Regions from separate parts of the Homo sapiens genome. Here region 1 is linked to region 2. Evidence: fine-mapped expression QTL. A gene starts in region 2. The other region holds a variant in brackets. All regions are shown on one strand. Distances are between the middles of the regions.

What was found.
Region 1: its variant is fine-mapped to the expression of CPVL in fetal neocortex (Walker 2019, PIP 0.93).

What each region holds. Positions count from the first base shown.
Region 1 is chr7:29,054,192-29,066,402 of GRCh38, reverse strand. CPVL (carboxypeptidase vitellogenic like) reads left to right here. Exons shown (of 13, transcript NM_031311.5): 10 at 282-380; 11 at 2,169-2,342. Among named protein-coding and RNA genes, the nearest start is that of CPVL-AS1, 20 kb to the left of the region's middle. The variant G/A (reference allele first, on the strand shown) is at 6,727.
Region 2 is chr7:29,139,624-29,151,834 of GRCh38, reverse strand. CPVL (carboxypeptidase vitellogenic like) reads left to right here and starts at 5,298. Exons shown (of 13, transcript NM_031311.5): 1 at 5,298-5,406. It also overlaps a transcript of CHN2 not described here. RefSeq lists an enhancer at 11,954-12,211.

The DNA of each region.
Region 1 (12,211 bases), 85 kb after region 2:
ATCACTGTCTACCATATGATATAATTTACTTAGAAATGCTTGTTGTCCCCCACCAGAATAAAAGCTCCATGGGGGAGGACCATTGGTCTGTTTTGTTGATGGCCATTTCTCCAGTGCCATGACAGTGTCTAGCACAGAGAATATGCACAATAAGTGGGCGCTGGATGAAACAATAAAGGAATGAAAAAGTTGTTGAATAAATGAAATGACAAATGTCTGTACATTTTTATCCACACTGATGTTTTCTTTCTTTCTTTCTTTCTCCCTCTCTCCCAACCTAGATACTGGATAAACTACTAGATGGCGACTTAACAAGTGATCCTTCTTACTTCCAGAATGTTACAGGATGTAGTAATTACTATAACTTTTTGCGGTGCACGGTAATGACATTTTAAAAACCATAATAATGTTTGCTTAAAACTTTTGGCAAAACCGAACTTCCTTTGATTTGGGAAATATTATAGATGACTTTATACTAGACCAACATGTCCAAACTGTACCGCGTGATGTGGTCTACTAACCCATAGAATCTTTTCCTCATCAGTGTTGTATACGTTATAATCTGACCACTGAGAATGTGTGATATTTCAGATAACTCAAAACAACTTCTGATGAACATGATTTCCCCCAAGTAGAGCTTGTTATAGAGGCACTTTTGTGAAGGACACAGGCTGGGATTGGAGTTCTGGGTCTCAGGTCCCAGAGCTTCAAGTCTGTTTACGAGTCTCTTGAAAATGCCCACATTCTTTGTTCTGTACTTAAGACGCTTGGATAATCAAAACTGCCAAAGCCTTAATGAAAATATTTGCTTTGTCTTACTTTTAAGATGTTTAATGCATTTAGTATGGCCCTCACTTCAAGCCTTCTGGAATATTTCTCAAAGTATTCAAGTAGTTTGTTTCATAAAAGTAGGCCAAAGTTGATATCTTTTGTGTAGAATTAGTCAAACAGAAGGAGCCAAAGTAGGTGTTTGAATTTGTATAATCTTTGTCTAATGCTTATGACAATGCATTCTGTTTTTAAAATTGCCTGATTTATGAACTAGTTTGTAAATAAAGTATAACGTTAGTTTCAGTGGAATTCGCCAATGCTGCAGTTTTGGATTTAGATTCTACTAAGAGAAAAACATGTGGTAGACAAGACAGAAACAAAATTTGTGATGATACCTTTTTTTCTTTACAACAATATATTCACAGTTAGTAAAAATTGTTGATGAAGCACAAAGTTGTCAAACTCAAACTTTAACAGTTTTTTTAATCCTTGTGTAACTGTTTTTTTTTTAAAGCATTTACTCCTTTCTTTCAGTATAATGATTATTACAGAGACTTTATTGCAGTTTTTTTTTTAATAAGCTTCATGGACAACTTTTCTTCTGTCTTGTGTCCTTCATAAAGTATCATCTCTTTTCACATTTGACATATTTTCCCCTTTATTATAGTCAATCCAATTTTGTGTGTGTGTGCGGTTTTTTTTATTTTTTAATTTTATTATTATTATACTTTAAGTTTTAGGGTACATGTGCACAACGTGCAGGTTTGTTACATATGTATACACATGGACACAGGATGGGGAACATCACACACCGGGGACTGTTGTGGGGTGGGGGTAGGGGGGAGGGATAGCATTAGGAGATATACCTGATGCTAAATGACGAGTTAATAAGTGCAGCACACCAACATGGCACATGTATACATGTGTGTGGTTTTAATAAACAGCAGAACACAGAAAAGAAATTCTTAGCTTTAAATCCAGCACACCACCAACCTGGCCCTTGTGATCCATTTGACCTTCTTTCCAAAGAGCCACCAACAAGGAGTGAATTGATTTTGATAATCTCATCTCTTTTGTTTTCTCTCTCTTTGCCTCTAGTGGGGTTGCTAATGGGAGTCACAGATTGCAAAAGATTAGTTTCTGCAAAGGAAAATCCTGTATTTGCAAATTGGGTATTTTAAGAGTATTTTAAGGGTATTTCAGATTTCTAATTAGTAAAAAGATTCCACCTAAATTATCTCAAAACCTCCGAGTTAAAATTTCAAGAATGGCGACAAGTTAATAGTCCCGTCACGTTTCTCCATGTTGTATGTTATGAGAAATTCACAGCTTTTCCCAACATACTGTTCCTGCCACCAATCATGTTCCCTATGTCTTTCCAATGCCCCTTCTGCCAGGAACCTGAGGATCAGCTTTACTATGTGAAATTTTTGTCACTCCCAGAGGTGAGACAAGCCATCCACGTGGGGAATCAGACTTTTAATGATGGAACTATAGTTGAAAAGTACTTGCGAGAAGATACAGTACAGTCAGTTAAGCCATGGTTAACTGAAATCATGAATAATTATAAGGTAAGAGAGCTACTTCAGTTACTATTTTAGGAACTTTCAGATTACCCAGAGCAGAAGTGATTTGTAATTTGAGTCCTGCCTTTTTTTTTTTTTTAACTTTTATGATGTGTCATTAGCATAAATAACAGCCCCTTTCTTTGTTTGATTCCAATTCAAAGTTTTATATTGTTCCTTTTAATTTAACCACTTTTGCCGTTGTGGTGACTTATACCTGTAATCCCAGTGCTTTGGGAGCCTGAGGCGGGTGGATCACCTGAGGTCAAGATTTTGAGACCAGCCTGGCCAACATGGTGAAACCTTCTCTCTACTAAAAAATACAAAAACTAGCTGGACATGGTGGCGGGTGCCTGTAATCCCAGCTACTTGGGAGGTTGAGGCGTGAGAATCACTTGAACCCGGGAGGCAGAGGTTGCAGTGAGCCAAGATCGCAACATTGCACTCCAGCCTGGGCAACAGAGCAAAAACTCTGTCTCAAAAAAATAAAAATAAAATAAAATAATTTAACCACTTTCCCCTGATTATTCCTTAAAATGAAATTCCCTTTGGCACACACCACTTCTCATCCTTTCTTGAGAAAGGAAGAGTTGCAGAGCCAAAAAGATGACTGGCCGTGTGTAAGAGCCAGATTTCTCTTATGTGTTGCTTTGTTACATGAATCCCAATGACGTCAGGGATAAATGAAATCAACTGGTTATTCTGAAAATGCATTTTGCCTAATGGTTGTATTCATTCACTTTACCCAATCACAGTGTTTTGAGTCTCTCCTTAGGGTGTGAGGTTGAAATGATGAATGAGAAAGGGTCCCTGTTTGGAAGTAGGTCAAGTCAAGCCATTGTGCTGTCTGGTTGAAATGCTCTGCCTTTGCTGCCAGTGGAGGTGCCAGTGGAGAGTGAGGTCACAGAAAAGGAGCCCTGGAGGTTCAGGCAAAGAAGACATGGGCCCTGGAACTCCCACTGGGAAGGAGGACACCAAGAGCAAATGACATGGGGAAAGTCAGCCTGTGTATTATTTCTTTCCTGGTACTACGCTCTCAGCTCCTCCTCTGGTCCTCCAGTGCTGTTAGCCTTTGCCCAAGGGATCGTCTCTAGGGCAACTCCGAAGGATGCCTGTACTGATGACTGGGGAGACCACCACTGAGTGATCCACTTCCTCCCTATATCCTGTTTTGAATGAACAAAAAACAGGGCAGTCGGCAGCCCATAGGATTTTTGTATGAATTAGAATAAAGGCATCCTCTCCTCAAGATACTTTATTTCGATCTTTCAGAAATTGTCCTGATATACTGCCTTAGTTAAAACCAGACTCTTTACTGCCATTTGCTGGCATGCTGAATATTCATTTCTACAATGTGTATATTAGGAATGGTGTGTCTTAGGATTGTTCAGTGCACAATCTGCAATACTATCCAGGCAGTCCCTGGCCAATGCACCCTAACTAGACTGTGGTTTAGAATATGCCAGACCTAGGAGGCCCATTTCTGGGTCCTGCTTCTAGTACAGTGTTGGACACGTAACCATTGTTGAAAATAGTTTAAGACCAATTATATGCCAAGTCTACAAACCCATTATAAACCTGCAAAACTTGATGAAATACTTACTTTCTTGGAAAGAAAGAGTCTAACTAGGTCAGGCCAGCATTTCAGCCATCCTTGTGTTTGGTTTTCTTGGGGACATGTAGTGGCCCTTAGTGCTTGCTGCTTCAAGACTTCTCAGAGGACCTCCAGAAGGCACTGCTGTTTGTCCTCTCCTCTGAGCTCTCAGAACGCGTTGTCTTTACCCCCATAGGTGTACATGGCACACTCTAACGTGCAGACTCTCAGTCTGACACCCATACCACCACCAGCCTGGAGCAGATGTCAGGAATGAATGAATGATTAGTGCTGTATCAAAAATATATCTATAAACCTGTCCATAATCCATTAGGTGCTTATTATCCACAAATTTATTAAACCAAAAAGAGGTTAGCGTTCATGTCTTAAAGATGATGTTCTGTAATGTGATGTTAAGGAATGGAACGAGTGAATTTTTTTGAGAGGAGAGCAGATAAGTTTGATATGTGTTATTTGTGCCCTTGGGAGATATATTTTCTCACTGTACACACTTTTTTTTTTTTTTTTTGAGATAGAGTTTTGCTCTTGTTGCCCAGCTGTAGTGCAATGGTGCGACTGGCTCACTGCAACCTCCACCTCCTGGGTTCAAGCAATTCTCCTGCCTCAGCCTCTCAAGTAGCTGGGATTATAGGCATGTGCCACCATGCCCAGCTAATTTTGTATTTTTAATAGAGATGAGTTTTCTCCGTGTTGGTCAGATTGGTCTCAAACTTCTGACCTCAGGTGATCCGCCCACCTCGGCCTCCCAAAGTGCTAGGATTGCAGGCATGAACCACCGCACCTGGCCTCACTGTACAAATTTAACTAGAATATGATTCCTTTCTCAGCCATGTGAGGGTAAGGTGGGACAAACAGCTTACCTGATGACATAAACTCTCCTTATGTTTTGACTGATAAAGGAGAATATATTGATTAGAGGTGATCCTGCATTTTGATATTTAAACTTCTCTGTCCCTCTTGCCCATGTATCCTAAACTTACCACTATGAATTCCAATAAAATCAAAATCCAGTATTTTCTAAACTTTTCTTTTCTTTTTTGAGACAGAGTTTCACTCTGTTGCTCAGGCTGGAATGCAGTGGCACGATCTCGGCTCACTGCAACCTCCACATCCCGGGTTCAAGTGATTCTCCTGCCTCAGCCTCCTGAGTAGCTGAGATTACAGGCACATGCCACCATGCCTGGCTAATTTTTTTTCCGTATTTTTAGTAGAGACAGGGTTTCACCATGTTGCCCAGGCTGATTTCAAACTCCTGACCTCAGGTGATCCACCCGCCTCGGCCTCCCAAAGTGCTGGGATTACAGGTGTGAGCCACCGTGTCTGGCATAAACTTTTCAACTCTGAATCGGTTGCCAGAAAAAGAAAAGAGTTTAGTGGTATAGATAAACCATATTTCCATAAAGAAACAGAACAAAATATGCCACCAAAAAGTGGCTGCTGCTAAAACAGACAGCATGTTCACTCACGCAGCTGGCAAAGCGCTTGGGATAGTGATTATCTTTGGCTTGTCTGTTAATGATGTTGAACCTCAGTGTTCAGAACGGGAATCAGAACAACCTAGGTTGGCTTAAAACGTTAGTACCATTAAAGTCATATTTATGTAAGACTCGGTACTAATTTGTCATAGAAAATAGCATGCCTGTTTCTATTCATAGGAACTAGAGGTCTTTTTCCAGTACTGGGTTCATTTTGGCCAATGTGGAGCATCTCTGATGGTTGAAGGAAGACCTTCCTGGGTTTCTGGAATTACGTTTTCATGTAGTTTCTGTATAAAAATTAGCTTCTCTGTAAACTACGTTAGTTTCTATGTAAGCTACGTGAAAACATAATCCTTTTCTTACAGTGATATACAGGAGATGCATACTCAAAAGTCATTTTCCTTTCAGTAATTTCAGATGTTTGGGTGGTAAATTGAAATATCATATTGGCAGTTTCAAAAATAACTAGAAAGAGAAACAATCTGTTGGGCTATTTGAATTCTTTATGACTGAATGAAGTCAAAACATGATCAGGACTTTTAGGAGTTAGCTGGTTAATAGAGTATGGTGGTTATGAACATGTTCTTAAGTTGCATATCTTGAGTTTGAGCTCTGGTTACACCAGTCACTGGCTATGCTCCTTTGGGAGAGGAAACTTAAACTCTCTGCGCTTTGGCTTCCTTGTCTATAAAACAGGAATAAAAACAGTATTTATGTGTGAGTTTCTGTGAGGTTTAAATGAGATTATATATGTAAACACACTTAGAAGAGTGCCTGATGGTTAGAAGGTGCTTATTTATATATATATAAGCTATTACCAAAAATGTTCAACAAATTTTGTGAAAGTCTTTAAGATCTTGCTACATTCAAAAGTTATACAAGAAACCCTGGAAAACACAAAAATAAAAAAGAATGGACAGGCTTCCAGTTTCCATTCCAGTGTGTAAGAAGCTTAGAAGTCTCCACTCCATTGTAACAACAGTAAAAAGCCAAACAAACTGAAATATAATCAAGAACTCTTTTTAGATTTGTTGAAACTGAGGTCACAGGGCAAATTGCTGCCCTCCAAAATTAGAGAGAGAGATGAATATAGGGAGTCAAAACTTAACAGGAGCAAACCTGTAAGTAGAACCCTCCATGGAAACAAATGGTGAGGAAGGGAAACCTGAACAGTAATTGGTAAATTACTAGAGGCTCCATAGGGACAAGTCTGAGAGTTTAAAACACCATGGGTGGGGAGAGGACTCAGCCAAAGGTCACTTGTAAATGACCTTTATTATGTTGAGGGACTTTTCTT[G/A]TATACCCAGACTGTTGAGTGTTTTTATCAAGAAAGGATGTTGGATTTTGTTGAATACTTTTTGTGTCAATTGAGATGATCATGTGGTTTTGTCTTTCAGTCTGTGATGTGTCACTTTGATTAACGTACCTATGTTAAACCAGTCTTGCATGCTAAGGGTAAATCCCACTTGATCATGCTGTAGAATCTTTTTGGTGTATTGTTGAATTTGGATTGCTAATATTTTATCGATAATTTTTGCATGAATGTCAGAGTTACAGCCTTGCAGTTTTCTTTTTTCTTATGATATCTTTGCCTGGCTTAGGAATCAAGATAATACTTGCCAAAAAATCTATGATTAATATGCTAAGGATTTTAATGGAAAAAGTAGACAACCTGCAAGAACAGATGGATATTGAAAATAGAGATATGGAGATTATAAGAATCAAAAGGAACTGTTAGAGATCAAAAACACTGTAACAGAGATAAAGAATGTCTTTGGTGGGCTCACTAGTAGACTGGACACAGCTGAGCTAAGAGTAGCATGAGGATGTAATAAATAAAAGCTTCCAAAACTGAAAAGTAAAGAGAACAAAGACTTAAAAAAATTTTTTTTGAATAGCCTTAACTGTGGGACAACTACAAAAGATGTAACATACACATAAAGGGAATACCAGAACAAGAAGAAAGAGAAGGAAATGGAAGCAATATTTAAAGCAATAATGATTGCAAACTTTCCCAGATTAATGTAAAACATCAAAGCACAGATTCCAGAAGCTCAGAAAACATGGAGTCAGATAAATGCCAAAACAAAATAATCAAGAAAAGGAGGCAAGTCATATGGAAGCTTCAAAAAAATCAAAGATAAAGAAAAAAAGTCTCAAAAGAAGCCAAAGGGGAGAAAAACCTTACCTATAGAGAAGCAAAGGTAAGAATTACATCTAGGTTCTCCTCAGAAATCATGCCAACAAGAAGAGCATGGAGTGAAATATTTAAAGTGTTGAGAGAATAAAACCCACCAACTTAGAATTCTGCACCTTGCAAAAGTATTCCTCAAAAGTGAAAGAGAAATAAAGACTTTCTCAGACAAACAAAAATTGAGGGAATTTGTTGCTAGTAGACCTGCTTTGTAAGAAATGTTAAAGTAAGTTTTCAAAGAGAAGATAAGTGATATAGGTCAGAAACTCACATCTATATAAAGAGAAGAAGAGCATTGGATAATGATTAAATGAAGATGACATAATTATTTATGTAGAAAATCCAGAAGAATCAACAAAAAAGCCTCTTGGAATTAATAAGTGATTAATCATAACAAGGTTGCAGGATATAAGGTTAATATAGAAAAGTTAATCACTTTCCTATGTACTCCCAATAAACAAGTGAAATTTGAAATTAAAACACAGGACTATTTACATTAGCACCCTTCAAAAATGAAATACTTAGATATAAATACAACAAAATATGTATAAGATCTATATTAGGAAAACTGCAAAACTCTGATAAAAGACATCAAGAACAACTAATAGTTGGAGAAATATTTTGTGTACATGGATATGAAGACTCAATATTGTCAAGATGTCAGTTCTTCCCAACTTGATCCATAGATTCAATACAATCCCAATCAAAATCTCAGTAACATTTTGTAGATAAGGATAAATTGTTCTAAAGTTTCTAAGGAGAGGCAAAAGACACAGAATAACCAACACAACATTGAACAAGAGGAATAAAGTCAGAAGATTGACATTACCCAACTTCAAGACTTACCATAAAGCTACAATAATTAAGATATTATTTATTGTAATAATTAAGTATGGCATTGGCAAAAGAATAGGCAAATAGGTTGATGGACTAGAATAGAGAGCCCAGAAATATACCCACATAAATATAGTCAACCGATCTTTGATAAAGGAGCAAAGGTTATACAATGTAGCAAAGATAGTCTTTACAACAAATGGTGCAGGAACAAATGGATATATCCACATACAAAACAAAATAATGAAATAGACACAGATCTTACACCCCTCACAAAAATGTTCTCTGAATGGATTGTAGACCTAAAGGTAAAACATAAAACTATAACACTTGTAGGCATTAACTTAGGAGAAAATCTAAATGACCTTGGGTATGGTGTTGATGTTTCAGATACAATGCTAAAGGAACAATCCATGAAAGAAATAATTGAGAAGCTGGACATCATTAAAATTAATAACTTCTACTTTACCAAAAACAATGTCAAGTAAATGAGAAGATAAGCCACAGAGTGGGAGAAAATATTTGCAAAAGACACATCCGATAATGGACTGTTAACCAAAATATATTTTTAAAAACCCTTATAGCTCAACAATAAGAAAATGAACAACCCAATTTAGAAATGGGAAAAAGACCTGGGCACCTCACCAGTGAAAATATACAGATGGTAAGTAAACATATGAAAAGATGTTGGCTGGTTGCCAGTGGCTCATGTCTATAATCCCAGCACTCCAGGAGGCCAAGGCGAGAGGATCACCCAGGAGTTTGAAACCAGCTTGGACAACATAGAGAGACCCTGTCTCTACAAAATAAAAATAATTAATTAATTTATTAGCTGGATGTGGTGGTGTGCACCTGTAGTCATGGCTACCTGAGAGGCTGAGGTGGGAGGATCACTCGACCCCAAGAGTTCAAGGTTGCAGCAAGTCATGACTGTGCCACCGTACTCTAGCCTAGGCAACAGAGTGAGACCCTGTCTCAAAAAAAAAAAAAAAAAAAGAAAAGGAAAAGATGTTCAACATCATATGTCATTAGGGTATTACAAATTAAAGCCATGAGATACCACTTCCAGACCTATTGGAATAGCCAAAATCCAAAATACTGACAACACTAAATGCTTACAAGGATGTGGAGCAATAGGAACTCTCATTCTGGTGGGAATGCAAAATGATACAGCCACCTTGGAAGACAGTTTGAAAATTTCTTACAAAATTTAATATACTCTTACCATACCATTCAGCAGTCATTCTCTTTGGTATTTACCCAAATGAACTGTAAGCTTGTGTCCACACAAAAATCTGTACAGGGCTATTTATAACAGCTTTATTCATAATTGCCAAAACTTGGAAACAACCAAGATATTCTTCAGTAGGTGAATGAATAAACTAGTCCAGACAATGAAATTTTATTCAGTGCTAAAAAAAACGAGCTATCAAGCCATGAAAAGACATGTAGAAAACTTAAATGCATATTTCTGAGTGAAAGAAGCCAATCTGAAAAGGCTACGTACTGTATGATCCCAACTATGTGACATTCTCTAAAAGGCAAAACTATGGAGACTGAAAAGATCAGTGGTTGCCAGGAGTTGGGGGAGGGAGGGATCAATAGGCAGAGCACAGAGGATTTTTAGGGCAATGAAACTATTCTGTGTGATACTTCAATGGTGGATACAAGATGTTATGCATTTGTCAAAACCCATGGACCGCATAACACCAACAGTGAGTTCTAATGTGAACTGTGGACTTTAGGTGATTTGATGATGTTTCAGTGTAGCTTTGTTAGTGTAACAAATACATCGCTGTGGTGAGGGATATTGATAGTGGAGGAGGTTGTATGGGAGAGGGCATAAGGGGTGCATGGGAACTCTGTACTTTACACTCAATTTTGCTATGAACCTAAAACTGCTCTGAAACACAAAATTTACTAATTTATTAATTTACCTTTTTTTAAGTTAATTGTCTTCCTAGTAAAGGGGATAGATGCTAGTATATTTGATAATGGGTAGATTCAATTCCTACATCCAGCAGACTGGTAAAGTAGACTCTGTGAAGGAAAATACAACTAAAATACAATTGAATTCAGGATAAATGACAACAAACATAATTGTAATGCCTTTAATAAAATGAAAGTGGATCTGAAAACAAAAACAACACCAGAAAAACAAAAGGCAGAGAAGGGAATTCTGTGGAGCAAGAGCAATAAGGCAGGGTGGCCCTGAGAACCAGTGTCCTCAGTGCTGGGCTGGCAGCTGGCAGCTGGGCTGTGGGCCCAAGTAAAGTGACACTGCTGACCTGAGAGCCCAGCACCAGGGCTGGGACATGTGGAGGGCCCAAACTGGTCCCACAGTGCTAGGAACTCTGGCAACTAGCAGAAGCAAATACACTTAACTTAGTGGTAGGGCCGGGCACGGTGGCTCATGCCTGTAATCTCAGTGCTTTGGGAGGCTGAGGTGGGCACATGACCTGAGGTCAGGAGTTCAAGACCAGCCTGGCCAACATGGTGAAACCCCATCTCTACTAAAAAAGTAAAAAATTAGCCAGGTATGGTGGCGGGCGCCTGTAATCCCAGCTACTTGGGAGGCTGAAGCAGAAGAATTGCTTGAACCTAGGAAGCAGAGGTTGCAGTGAGCCGAGATTGCACCACTGCACTCCAGTTTGGGTGACAGAGTGAGACTCCCTCTCAAAATAAATAAATAAATAAATGAAAAGAAAATAGAGGTGTTTACAGTCTCTCAGATTTTTCAAAAATATAAAGCCATTTTCAACAAAAATGTAAGCTTGTAATCAAAAGTCACCTAACACAAAAGTAAACAGGCTACAGCCTGTGAATAAACAGAAACAAATATAAGAGAGAAAGATAGCCAAGGCACTTTCAGATATAGGACATATGAGAGATAAAACAACTATGTATGAAATATTTGAAGGCATAAAAATGGAGTTACAAAACAAGCAATAAATGAGAAACTAATAAATATGGCTAGGCAAATTTGAAAGAGAACAAATTGTAATCATTAAAAATGAATGATACAGTTGTTGAATTTAAAACTCAGTGCATGGGTTAAAGAGTAGATTAGACAGTGCTGAAGATAAATTTAATGAATCAGAAGATAGATCTGAAGAAATTACCAAAATGGAACACAGGAAGAAAAGATAAAAAGTTTGAAGGGAGATTAAGAGGCATTAAGAAGAGAATACTATATGTCTAAGCAGAGTCAGAGAGGGTAAGAACAGAAAGAATGAAAAAAAGCCATTTTTAAGAAACAGTGGCTGAAAATTTGCCATATCTGATAAAGGTTATGAATGCACAGACACATGTACTGAAGCACATATACAATAAGCAGTGGGAGAGAGAAAATAAATTCATATTTTAGGTGGTTTTAATGAAATTGAATAATAGCAAAAAGCAAAGAGAATGTTTTAAAAGTCAGAAGGAAAAGGCAGGCCATCTACAAAAGGAGGACAATCAGACTGACAGACTTGTCAGTGACAGCAATGGAAGGCATAATATCTTCAAAGTGCTAAAATGAGATAACAATCTAGAACTACATTTCAAGTAAAATGGTAGAATAAAAGTATTTTCAGATTTAACAAAAAAATTATTTCAAGTGCATTTAGAATCAACAGATTTTCACTAAAGGAGCTTCTAAAGAATATATTTAGGAAAAATAAATTACTCCAGAATTATTCCAGGAAGAAAATCTGAGCTACAAGAAGAAATACTAACTATAGAAATTGATAGAAATAATATTTTATCAATG
Region 2 (12,211 bases):
CTCAGATCAGCCTTGTAGGATTGGTGGTGTTCTCTTCCCATACATGAGAAGGCTAAGGCTTAGAGAGGTTAATTAACACAGCAAAGGTCACACAGCTAATGAGTGGCTGAGCTGGGATTCAGATGCCATCGGTCTACTCCTAAGGCCATGCCCTTAATCAGATACTATCCTGAGCACACTGGCAGGTTCATCATAATATCAATATATACCTCGCAGGGCTGATGTGAAAATTAAAAGAGATGATATATATAAAAAGTGTTGGGCAAACCATAAAATCCTTACAAAGTTTCACTATGATTATTTCTCTTGGTTTTACACAGGGCTTGCTCAGCTGTCCTTAGTGGCCATGTCTATATTAATCCCATAATTTATCCTTAAATCACCGAAGTCTTATTTGCCTGGCTTTTTCCATAGCCGAAGGGAAACTGAAAATATGCCTTTTGTAAGAAAGCCTTAACACCTGCTGCTAAAGGGCGCTAAACCATCTGGATCGTCAAAGGAGTATAGGCTCACTTACAAAAGACGTAGATTAATTTGGACATTGTTTCCCTACATAAACCAGGCATAAGGAGGCAAGCAACCCAGGGAAGGATAATCATGCTAAGAGTGGAAGCACTTATTAGAAATAATTACCATGTAATTATCCACAACTTCCCTGGAGTCTGTAGCCTGTGGCTAGTCTTAGGAGGTGCCCCTTCCTTACCAAGTACAAGGAGACTGAAGCACTTCAATAAGTTGATCAGGGCATGTGTCTGTGTCTTAGAGCTTGGTTACCGCCACCTGGGCCTACTTCTCACTTAATGAAGCCTTCAATGCTTATAGCTGAGGTGCAGAACAGCTGTAGACTTTCTTCAGCTGGATCTACCACCCACCCCTCCCTTTTTTAATAGCACAGTGTTGTTTTGCAAGTGTGTGGGTGTGACACATCTGGCTTCGTTCCTTAAGAAAAGTGTTTATTGAACAATTAATTGTGGTGCATGGGGGCTGTGACATTTCTCTTTTCGCTGTGCCTCTGAGCTGTGTTTCCAGGCTACCCGGTGGCCCCATTGAAGATCAGTAACAACACTGAAAAGGAACAATGGCTATAGAAGCCTTGACAAGTGCAGGGAGAGACCTAGACACTTCCAAGAGGGGCATGATTGCCTACAAGGTTAATCAATTCCCCTTGTTTCCATTGCAGCTCCACATTTATCTTGCTGGCAGCAGCTGCAAATGTAAAATCAGACCTACAAACTTAGACAATTGGAATTGTATTTACCTGATCAAGATGTGTAAATGATCTATTCTCTGTGTCTTCTTAACTGGAATTTAAGGAGTTCAGCAAAGCTCCGGCTATAGGTCAGTGAGAAGCATGTTTTTGTGTGGTGTCCAGATACAATTTAGTTGTCTTGGATAGACAGTTGGAAAGAACTGCAGTCACAGCCTAGAATCTTGATTGTCATGATCACCATTATTATTGTTACAGCTGCCATTTTTTGAGCCTTTATATATGACAAGCACTTTATATGTACTACTATCTTATTTCTTCCTCTTGATAATACCGCAAGATAGCTAATAGTATTTTTATCATGTACAGATGAGAAAACTGAGATTAAGTAACTTGCTTATGGTCATTAGGTGCAAGGTTCTAGATTCAAACTGAGTCTGACCCATGCTCTGAACCACTAGGGCTTAACAAACCCAAACCTCACTAGAATATGCAGGTGCAGAGAACACAAGGGCTTGTGATCGACCTGACAGTTTTAAATCTTGTTTTCAGGAAAGCCAATCAAAGAAGGCTTAACGAATCTCTTTGCAAACCGATTTGTTGGCCAACCTTTGAATATTCTCAATACAAGAGAAGGGCTAAAAATATCTATTGCAGCAGTGAAGTGGCCTTATTTTGAAAATGAGTCTTCATAGAAGTAATCAAGCTAAAATGAGGTCATTAGAGTGGACCCTAATCCAATGTCATTGGTGTCCTCATAAATAGGTGAAATTGGGACACAGAGACAGACACATGGAGGGGAGACACTGTGAAAAGACACAGAGAGAAAGCCCTGGAAGGCTGAAGCAGAGATTGGGTTGATGCTGCCACAAGCCAAGGAACACCTGGGGCTACCAGAACCTAGAAGCAGCGAGGAAGGATCCTTCCCCTCCAGGTTTCAGAGGGAACCTGGCCCTGCTGGCACTTTAATTTCAGACTTGTAGCCTCCAGAACTATGAGACAATAAATTTCTACTGTTAATAGCTGCTCAGTTACAACCTCCCTGGAAAGCACATACTCCTGTCCTATGGTTCTATTCTGTTCTGTACTATTTTGTTCTATTTTATTCTCTTTCATTAAGAAAATGGATTTCCAGGCTGGGCACGGTGGCTTACACCTGTAATCCCAGCACTTTGGGAGGCCAAGGCAGGTGGATAACTTGCGGTCAGGAGTTCGAGACCAGCCTGGCCAATATGGTGAAACCCCGTGTCTACTACAAATACAAAAAATTAGCTGGCTGTGGTGGCGGGTGCTTGTAGTCCCAGCTTACTCGGGGGGCTGAAGCAGGGAATCGCTTGAACCCGGGAGGTGGAGGTTGCAGTGAGCTGAGATTGCGACATTGCAGTCCAGCCTGGGCGGCACAGTAAGACTCTGTCTCAAAAAAAAAAAAAAAAAAAAAGGGAAACAGACTTCCCAATCTACTAATTTTGAACAACATCAGTCTCTAGAGCTCAGCATTCTTGCCCTTTCCAAGCTGGCTCCAGTCTAATTTTCTAACCTCAGTATTAGTTAACCCCCGACCCACCCTGAACACGCCTGGTGTCGCACAGTCCATCTGTCCAAGAGCACAGCATCAACCTGAGTGCAGGTGGCCTGCTCATTGCCTGTGCTGCCACCTTTCCCCTCAGTGGCTATTCATTTTTTAATGTCTAGCTTCAAGTCACCTCCTCTGACAGGATTCCCCTGGCTCTTCGGGCAGAGTCATTTGGTCCCTGTCCTCTGTTCCCCCACACACACACTTTATCAGCCCCAATTACAGCTCTTATATTGTATGATGGGATCAATCTGTGTGTCCCCTTCATCCCTTCCCCACAACTAAACTTCAAGTTCCCTAAAGAAGACTATCTTTTTTCTTGTTTTTTCTTTTTAATCAAGTGTCTAGCACAGAACCTGACACACGACAAATCCGAATACAGGGTACCCCAAAAAGGTCAGTGCAGTTTTAAGCTTTAATAACTTCTTAAGTCGAAATGCTACAAACTTACAAAACTCATTTGAACGTTTACTTCTTTTGACTCTGTTTTAATTATTTTAATAAATGTAATTTTCTCTTCTGGTTAATGTATGCCATATTTCACTCAGGGGAACTGAAACAAAAATTAAAGTTAAAACGTGTTATTCAACATTCACAGAGATAAATAGTGTTAAATTAACTTTCAAATGGTGTTCTTATAAGTTGCAGCATTTATAGCCTTGAGGTTACTAAAACTGCAGGAAGACTTTTGGGACACCCTGTTTTTGAATAAATATGCTTACAGCATGGCTCCTCCTGTGTTTACTGTAAAATTCAGTTTAGTTTTTAAGTGGTTCCACGTGGGCACAGGTATTCTTTGGCCAGTAGTTGTCCTTATACTTAGACCCAAGGAGCCCTTGTCCAGGGCCCACACTTTAGAAGGCAAATTCCAAATTCCCTCCCCAAATGGCACTGAGCCTGCTTCAAGGGTCTGCACGCCAGCAGCAGTGTTATCTGCTAATGTCTGTACTCCCATGGGCGAACATTGCTGACTCTGGTGTTCATACTCTTGTGCCCAAGAGGTGGCTGGGGGACAGCTGCTTCTGGGAAGCTTGACCGAGCTTCCACCAATGGACTAGAGCCCTGTGGGAAGAGAGGAGGTGGCTGCAAACCAGGAACTGGAAATCGCCTCTCCCTGCACCATCATATTTAAGTGCAGATCATCCAAAGTTTCAATCTGGCCTTTCATGTCAATTCCCAAGGTATATTTGTCTAGGTAGGAAGGTAGAACTTATTGTACTTAATCATTTGTTAACTTTGTTTATAACTTTTAAATATTTAGGTATCTGGCCTACAGATCTCTGTTTGTACTTTTGCCCTGGGTCCTGCATATATTAAAGGTGGGCTGATTTTGGCCTTAAAAGAATTATTTTCCCACAAACAGATTTTTCTCCTTAAAGAGCTAGGTGGGTAGGAAGTACTTCCATATGGAAGGTATGATAGCAAAGAATGACTGCAGTCACTGAGCACATACTTTGTGCTGGGTGATTTACACATAGTTTTTCAGTGAGTCCTCACAACAACCCAATAAAGTAGGTACTTAGGAGAAAACAGATATTCAGTGACATTAGTTTGTTCCAGCTCGTAAAACTAGTGCTTTAGTTAGCCTTAGTTGCATAACAAACTACGCGAAACTGAAAGTGGCTTAAAACAATTTTTCCCCCTGACTGTCGGGTTGGCTGGGCTGCTCTACTGCGGGTTTCCCTGGGCTCACTCCTGCAGCTAGCTGTGAGGAGATGGAGGTTGGCCCGGGACAGTGCAGAAGATTCCCCGTGGCCTCTCCCACCTGTCTGGCAGTTGACGCTGCTGTTGCTGATAATGATGACCCTCCTTTATTTTGTGTTATCTACTTGCCATTGCAACCTCCTTGCCTTTTTTAGTTCTTGCTCCCGTACTGTCTGGCTCGATGCCCAGCACCTGGTGGTGGCTAATAATATACACTCAGGTCACTTACAAGCAATGTGACCCTGGATGGGTTACTTAACCTCACTTAGTTTGTGTCCCCCAATTGCAAAATGGGTATAATGGTACAGAACACATCAGGTGGCTCTGAGACTCCAGCGCAGTGATTCAGGAGAGTGCTTGGCAGGACAGTGGCACTTGGTGCGAGCTTACTGCTAGTGCAGCTGGAATGTAGACCATCAGCGAACGTGTGTTGCCTTTTTAAACAGTGGGAATCAAACACCACTCGCTTTCCAAATGTAAATCCTGGGCTTGCAAGTAAGTCCTAGAGTGCAGAAATAATTTCAAAATACAGGGTTGAAATTTTAAGATAGCAGCTTTTAAAAACTGGGAGACAAAATCAAAATAAAACAAAGGGACAAACCAACCTGAATGGCACCCCGCCGATGCTCTTCATTAATTTTTAAGATTCCACCCTGGGGCTGCTTGCTTCTTCCAGCATGGGAAGCGCTGACTTGATGCGGCCAGGTTTCTGGGACCAGGAGGTTGGGACACGACGACGCACTTTTTGCCCTGTGGGTCTGGGTCATGTGAGCCTAGAGGAGCGCTTAAAGGCTCGAGTTCTGCAGGGTCCTCGTGACTGGGTGGGGCTGCCTCACTTCTGCCTGATTTGGGAAGCGCTGCAAGGACAACCGGCTGGGGTCCTTGCGCGCCGCGGCTCAGGGAGGAGCACCGACTGCGCCGCGTAAGTGCCGCCTGCCCTGCGTGGGTCGTGCCAGCTCAGCGGGACAGGTCCTCGCCTCGGTCCCTCGGACTTAGGGAGCGCGGGGCAGGTAGTCTCAAAAGCCCTCAGCACCAACAGGGGAGAAAGCACCGTAGAGTGAGACTGGAGTGGGGTGGTCGTGGCCGAGTCAAAGTTCAAATTGGAGCATTGGGGATGTACTGCGTGCGCCCAGCCGAGGGAATACTCTTGAAGTTTCCTGGCACAACTGTCGCACCCGGGGTTCTTCCAGGCTAGAAGCCGTCTCCTACTCCAGGAGCTCCTCCGGGGAAGTACGAAGCTGTGGGGTCCTCTGCCGCTCTTAGCGCGGGAGGGTGGCGGGTGCAGGACACTTTCCCTTACTCCCTCAACGCGTGTTTTGGGGATGTGTTGATTTCGTGGGTGCTCAGAAGCAAGAGAAGCGGAAAATACCTTCTATTTTGAACGTGCCCAAAGCAGGGAAACTTGGCTTCTGCCTAGGAACGCATAGGAAGACTTTTATTCTTGGAATGTAGGATTAGCAGAAACCAAGGGCACAGGAGACAGGTGGAAGCAGCTCCCTGTGAAGTGATACAGAAACAAAAGGACTTTGGAATATTTGTGGATTTAAATCCCAGTTCTGGCCTTGGCTAGTGAGTGACCTCGGGCAAATTATTTAAGCCTACTAAACCTCAGTCTTTCCATCTGAAAGATGGAGATAATAAGTTTTTCTTTTTAAAGAATTGTTTTATTGGAAATAGAAATAACATACAGAAAATGCCTCCCTAGCACGGGACTTGGCTTTTCAGCTAAGTGTAATTTTCCTTATCAGTTATGATTGATGATGAAGTCTATGGTGAAGACAGAACAAAATAATGTTTAAAACTCTGGCCATATAATGACTGTGGCTATGCATGACCCGTGTGCAGTCACCTCTGAGCCCCCCACCTTCACTGCAACCCCAGTGGGTCCCAAGCAAGGTGCTTGGGTTTTGGAGCTGGACAATTCTGTGCAATTCCTGGTTCCGGTATCCACTACTTGGATGACATCAGGGACGTAACTTATCTTCCACAGCCTCAGTTTTGGCATCAGTAAATGAAAAAGGAGCCCCTCAGTACTTGCCTTTCCCTTCCCCGGCTAAATGTACAACTCATTTTTTTTCCATTCTTTGCTTTGGGATGAGTAAGAACAAAGATGTAAGCAGAGTAAAAAGTCCATTGAGAATACATTTTATTAGCTTGGTAAATAACGTTTAAGAAAGTTGTCCAAAAGGAGAATTGGAGCACTTTTGGAAAAGTACACTGCACCGGCTTTGTTGGCATATGAAAGTCTGCATGGTCGTCAAGACCGTTTGGCTAACTGGGCATTCTAGATGTGTACCTCATGCTAGTCTAAGTACAGGGGCAACCCTTTATAATGTAGTGTCAGTGTTCTTAACCAGATGTTGTTTTATTAATCTTTTATAGGAGATGATTGTTTGGGAGGGGCAATTGATCCCCCAATTTATATAAATCCAGTTTATAAATCACTTTATAGTGGGATTCTACTAGCCTGAGAAATAGGTGGGTTTTGACTGACAGTTTGAATGACTTAGAAGAGTGTTAAGAAAGTCCACTGGGTTTACCAGTTCACTCCCCACAAAAAATAAAAACAAGAAGCAAATAATATAACAGAATTCTAAAAATGAGTTTGTTTTTGTTTTGGGAAGCATCTAGTTTGTCAGAGGAAACACTGAGTGTTGAATACTACCCTGGGATGCACAGAACTAAGGCAATGAGAGGGGAGGAACTCAGTTCTTGCCCCAGGTATCATCAGATATCTGTTTATTAGCACCCAAATACTCAAGGTAAATAGTAATGACCCATTCTTTCTTTTTTTGAGACAAGAGTCTCACTTTGTCACCCAAGCTGGAGTGGCACCATCTCTGCTCACTGCAACCTCCATCTCCCGGGTTCAAGGGATTCTTGTGCCTCAGCCTCCTGAGTAGCTGGAATTACAGGTGTACACCACCATGCCCGGCTAATTTTTGTATCTTTGGTAGAGATGGGGTTTTGCCATGTTGCCCAGGCTGGTCTCGAACTCCTGACCTCAAGTGATCCTCCCACCTCGGCCTTCCAAAGTGCTGGGATTACAGGCATGAGCCACTGTGCCTGGCCAGTGACCCCTTCTTAATAGGAAGTATGGTTCACTAAAGAGCAAACATGATTGTTTTAGTTTACCATTTCCGATGGCTTTATAATGTGAGATTTTCATTGACTGAACTAAGAACATTTAAAAGAAGTAGGCAAGCTTCTCAGAATTAGAAAGATACCTCTAGAACAATGACTCATTAACGTCTATATTGACTTGTGAGAGAGGTAAGCTGGGCAAAAAGCTAAGAACTGTACTTTCCTGGTAAAAACAGTAGTGGAGTTTGAACTTTTATACTATATTTGCAAGCTCAAAGATGTAAGCCTTAATAGACAGTTCACAAGACAGCTGTTACAGCGTATCTGAACTGAAACCAGGGTATTGAGATTGCTCTCCCTTAAGAGATATTAGAGGTATAACCTTGAACATGAAATCACATGCTTTCATTGCTTTAACTCAGACCCTGGGGTGCAGGACAGGGTGGTGGTAGTGAAAGAGGGGGAAGGACTGTGTCCTTAGATCTTGGAGCCTGAAAAAGCAAATTCTTAGCAGCTTATCTTTCCAATATAGTTGGAACTTACCTCCTACCTTTTTCTCTCTAGTCTGATTCTAGTTATTGGTTGTCTTTAAATTGCTTAGAATTGTTTACAGGCCAAAATATTTACTTTGAACCCTAAAGGTAAGCTCTTCCTCCTTTCCTTTTTGGGACTCTGTATCCCATTACCCCTCTTTCAAAAAGATAGTGCCACATATCTTTTTGTACTGTATGATTCTTGGGAGAGAATGTAACCCAGGTCCCAAGCGATTCATTTTCTCATTTATTTATTCATTTAACTAATTTTTTCCCAGTGTTTGATTATGAAAAGGTTTAAACTTTCAGAAAAGTCAAAAGAATTTTGCAATCTAGAATCTACCTAGATTCTATTATTGATTAGAAGCCAGGGTATTGATTTCAATTGATTAATCAACTGGCATTGATTAGTTCCTACTGTTTGCCTGGAGGTTTGCTCAGCAAAGCTGTAAAAACATAAAAGGCAGGGTAGGGTTAGGGAACAAGGAGAGTTTTGATTTGGCGGAGCATAGGCTAAGAGTTTGTGAAGGAATCATGTAACTTTGGTTTGAAAAGTTATGTTGAAGTTGTATCATGGAGGACATTAAATTTCATCGTAGAAAGTTTATACTTTTTCCTGGTTGCAGGTGGGAGCCATTGAAGGCATGGGAGGAATGGAGTGCCTTGTGTTTTAGAAAGCTCACTGAAGCATCAGTGTTAGGCTAAATTGGAGGGAAAAGGACCGGAAGTCTGAGAGATGTGTTAGGAAGCTTTGTAAATGTCTCGGGGCAAGTAAGGGTTGAACTGTGGATAGAATGGAGAAAAAAGGAAGTAGAATAGCACTTGGTGACAGATTTGACTTGAGGACTTCTGGTTTTAGAACTCAGGCATCTGCAATTATAAGGGAGCATCATTAAGAATCTGGAAGTCGCTGGGCATGGTGGCTCATGCTTGTAATCCCAGCACTTTGGGAGGCTGAGGCGGGCAGATCACCTGAGGTCAGGAGTTTGAGACCAGCCTGGCCAACATGGTGAAACCCTGTGTCTACTAAAAATACAAAAATTAACCAGGCGTGGTGGTGCATGCCTGTAATCCCAACTACTCAGGAGGCTGAGGCGGGAGAATCGCTGCAACCCGGCAGCAGAGGCTCCAGTGAACCGAGATTGCACCACTACACTCCAGCCTGGGCAACAGAGCAAGACTGTGTCTCAAAAAAAAAAAAAAAAGTATCTGGAAGTCATAGAAGGAGGAAGTTTGAGGAGAATGATGACGTCCTGTTATAGAGTCAGTGGGTTTGAGGGGCTGATTGGTTATCCTTTTGGAGGTGACAGCTGACAGTGGTGATACTGTCCTGAAATGCCCAATAGCAATGTCAGGACTGAACAAACATTTGGACTAGTGATTAATACTCAAGGGGTGGTTGAATGGGAATGTACGGAAAGAGAAAAAAGGATAAGATCTTGAAGAAAATCTGAATATATGGAGTCCTTGGAGCAAAAAATAAATACAGGTGTTCAATGATCTGTTAGTATTTTAATGCCTGTTTATCTACAGTGTTACTATAGCTGCAGTTCTCATTAATAATTGACCACAGTTCCTAACTAAAAGACCATATCTGCACTAGTAAAGTGAAGTAAGTCTTTCCTTTTCCCATTCTGGGAAGTTCAGGGGGTAAGGTGAGGCAGAGGAAAGAAGAAGAGAAAGTTAAATAAATTTTTTTATCTAGGACTTTTAGAGCATACAACGCTTTTTCCAGGTAACCCACTTGCAGATCAGAAGCCAGGTAATTTAATGAACTTGTCTATCTTTTCACAAGGCAACAGCTACTTTTTTTTTTTTTGAGATGGTGTCTCACTCTGTTGCCTAGGCTGGAGTGCGGTGGCACAATCTCAGCTCACTGCAACCTCTGCCTCCTGGGTTCAAGTGATTCTCCTGCCTCAGCCTCCTGAGTAGCTGGGACTACAGGCGTGTACCCCCACGCCTGGCTAATTTTTATATGTTTAGTAGAGACAGGGTTTTACCACGTTGGCCAGGATGGTCTCCATCTCCTGACCTCATGATCCGCCTGCCTTAGCTTCCCAAAGTGCTGGGATTACAGGCGTGAGCCACAACGCCCGGCCAAGGTACAGAGTTTTTAAGTGGCAGAAGCCACATTTGAAGCTGTGAAGGCATACTTTGTTTTTTTATTTTTTATTTTTATTTTTTGAAATGGAGTTTCACCCTGTCGCCCAGGCTGGAGTGCAGTGGGGCGATCTTGGCTCACTGCAACCTCCGCCTCCTGGGTAAAAGCGATTCTCTTGCCTCACCTTCCCAAGTAGCTGGGACTACAGGCATGTGCTACCATGCCCAGCTAAGTTTTGTATTTTTAGTAGAGACGGGGTTTCACTATGTTGGCCAGGCTGGTCTCCAACTCCTGACCTCATGATCCGCCCACCTCAGCCTCCCAAATTGTTGGGATTACAGGCATCAGCCACCGTGCCCGGTCTGAGGGCATACTTTAAATCTTTCATGCTATTCCCACCGGACTGCATTGCCTTCCTATATGCTACTGACTGTATGCTAGGTACTGTGTTAGGCGTTTGCACATGTAGGCTCCTTACTGTGGCCCCTCTGTTTTGAGAAGGTGATCAGCAGGGAAGCTCAAAGCACATTGCACAATTGGTTGTTGCACAATTGGCAGGATGTCTGCCCTCTGATTGTGCCTTGTTTTCACCCAACTTCTTGAACTCTACAGGAAGGGCCAGCCTCTCTCAGAAATGCCAGCCCCTAAAGCTGGTACAAAGGTCATGCAACCTTCCTACTTCCCTGAGTTCAACAATCACTTCATTCATTCTCCTTAAGATCATACCTAAAATCCTGGCTTATTTAAGGGTGAAGTGGAGAAAAGCTCTATTTTCACTTATGCATTTGTTTTACCCCATCAATCTTCTGCCTTCCCTCATTGTCCCACAGTTGTGCCTGTCTAAGGTCACTTTTTGCTTTTTTCTTATTTTCCTTCCCTGGGGAGTCTTTGGAGAGAGGGTGCGATAGAATGTGTAGCCTGGAGCAAGATTACCCCCAGTTGACTATGGAAGCCCTGAGAATTATGCTGCTTCCTCAATGCTTTTTTCCCAAAGTTAGAAGTAGCAAGTTGTATAGTGAGTAATAGGATTTGCATTGTGAATGGGGTCTTCCTCCAGTGAGGACTTTACTAAGTGCAGTGTTTATTTGTAGTGGGGCACAGAACTGCATTCCTCATGCTTTATGACAGTATTTAGGGTTTACTGGTTTTCATGCATGTCTCTCTTTGCTAGAATGAGGGCTCCTTGAAGGTGGATACTGTCCCCTTTTCATCTTTAACTACTCCACAAGTTTTAGCAAAGTGTCTCACCCTTTACTGTATGGTTAGAAAATCTCTGAAGAGTTGAGTTCTGTTAAAGGAGAGAAAACTATTTGTATAGAAGAGTGTGGGTAGAAGCCTGTTTGTTTGTTTGTTTGATGTGAGACAGGGTCTTGCCACATTGCGTAGGCTGGTCTTGAACTCCTAGGCTCAAATAATCCTCCTGCCTCGGCCTCCTAAAGTGCCGGGATTACAAGTGTGAGCCACTGTGTCCAGCCGAGGCCTGCATGTTTGAATGGATCAAGAAATGTGATTGTTTAGTGCTGAGGGAGGGTAGGTAGGTTGCAGGGAAAGGCCTGGCTAGGGAAAAGCTCATATGCTCCTAAGTCAAGCAACAAGAAATGTAGAACGTGAAATAAAGATGAAGCCATTCTGAGTCATGTGCAGACCGTGGGAAATATCTCCCTGTATTTGACAAAAGGGGAAATGGCAGCCATAGCTAATTCTGAAGATGAAAAGTGTTCCTGCCTGGGTTACTTGATGAAGAATATTATTAGCAATCAGCAAGTCAAGTGGAAATAATTTGTTTTGTTTTGTTTTCTCCCCTTCTAACTATTGGCATGTTGGTAGAATTAACTTGGCTGGCAGGAGAATGAACCGCCTGTGCCGTTGGGACACAGGAGATTTCTGAGCTGGCAGACTGCACACTCCATGTAAAACCATGACTCTTTCCACCATTCTTGTGTACACGTGTGCCTGAACATTGGTGTCTGCAAAATCCGAGACGTCTGTTTCAGAGAAAAATTGCTGGA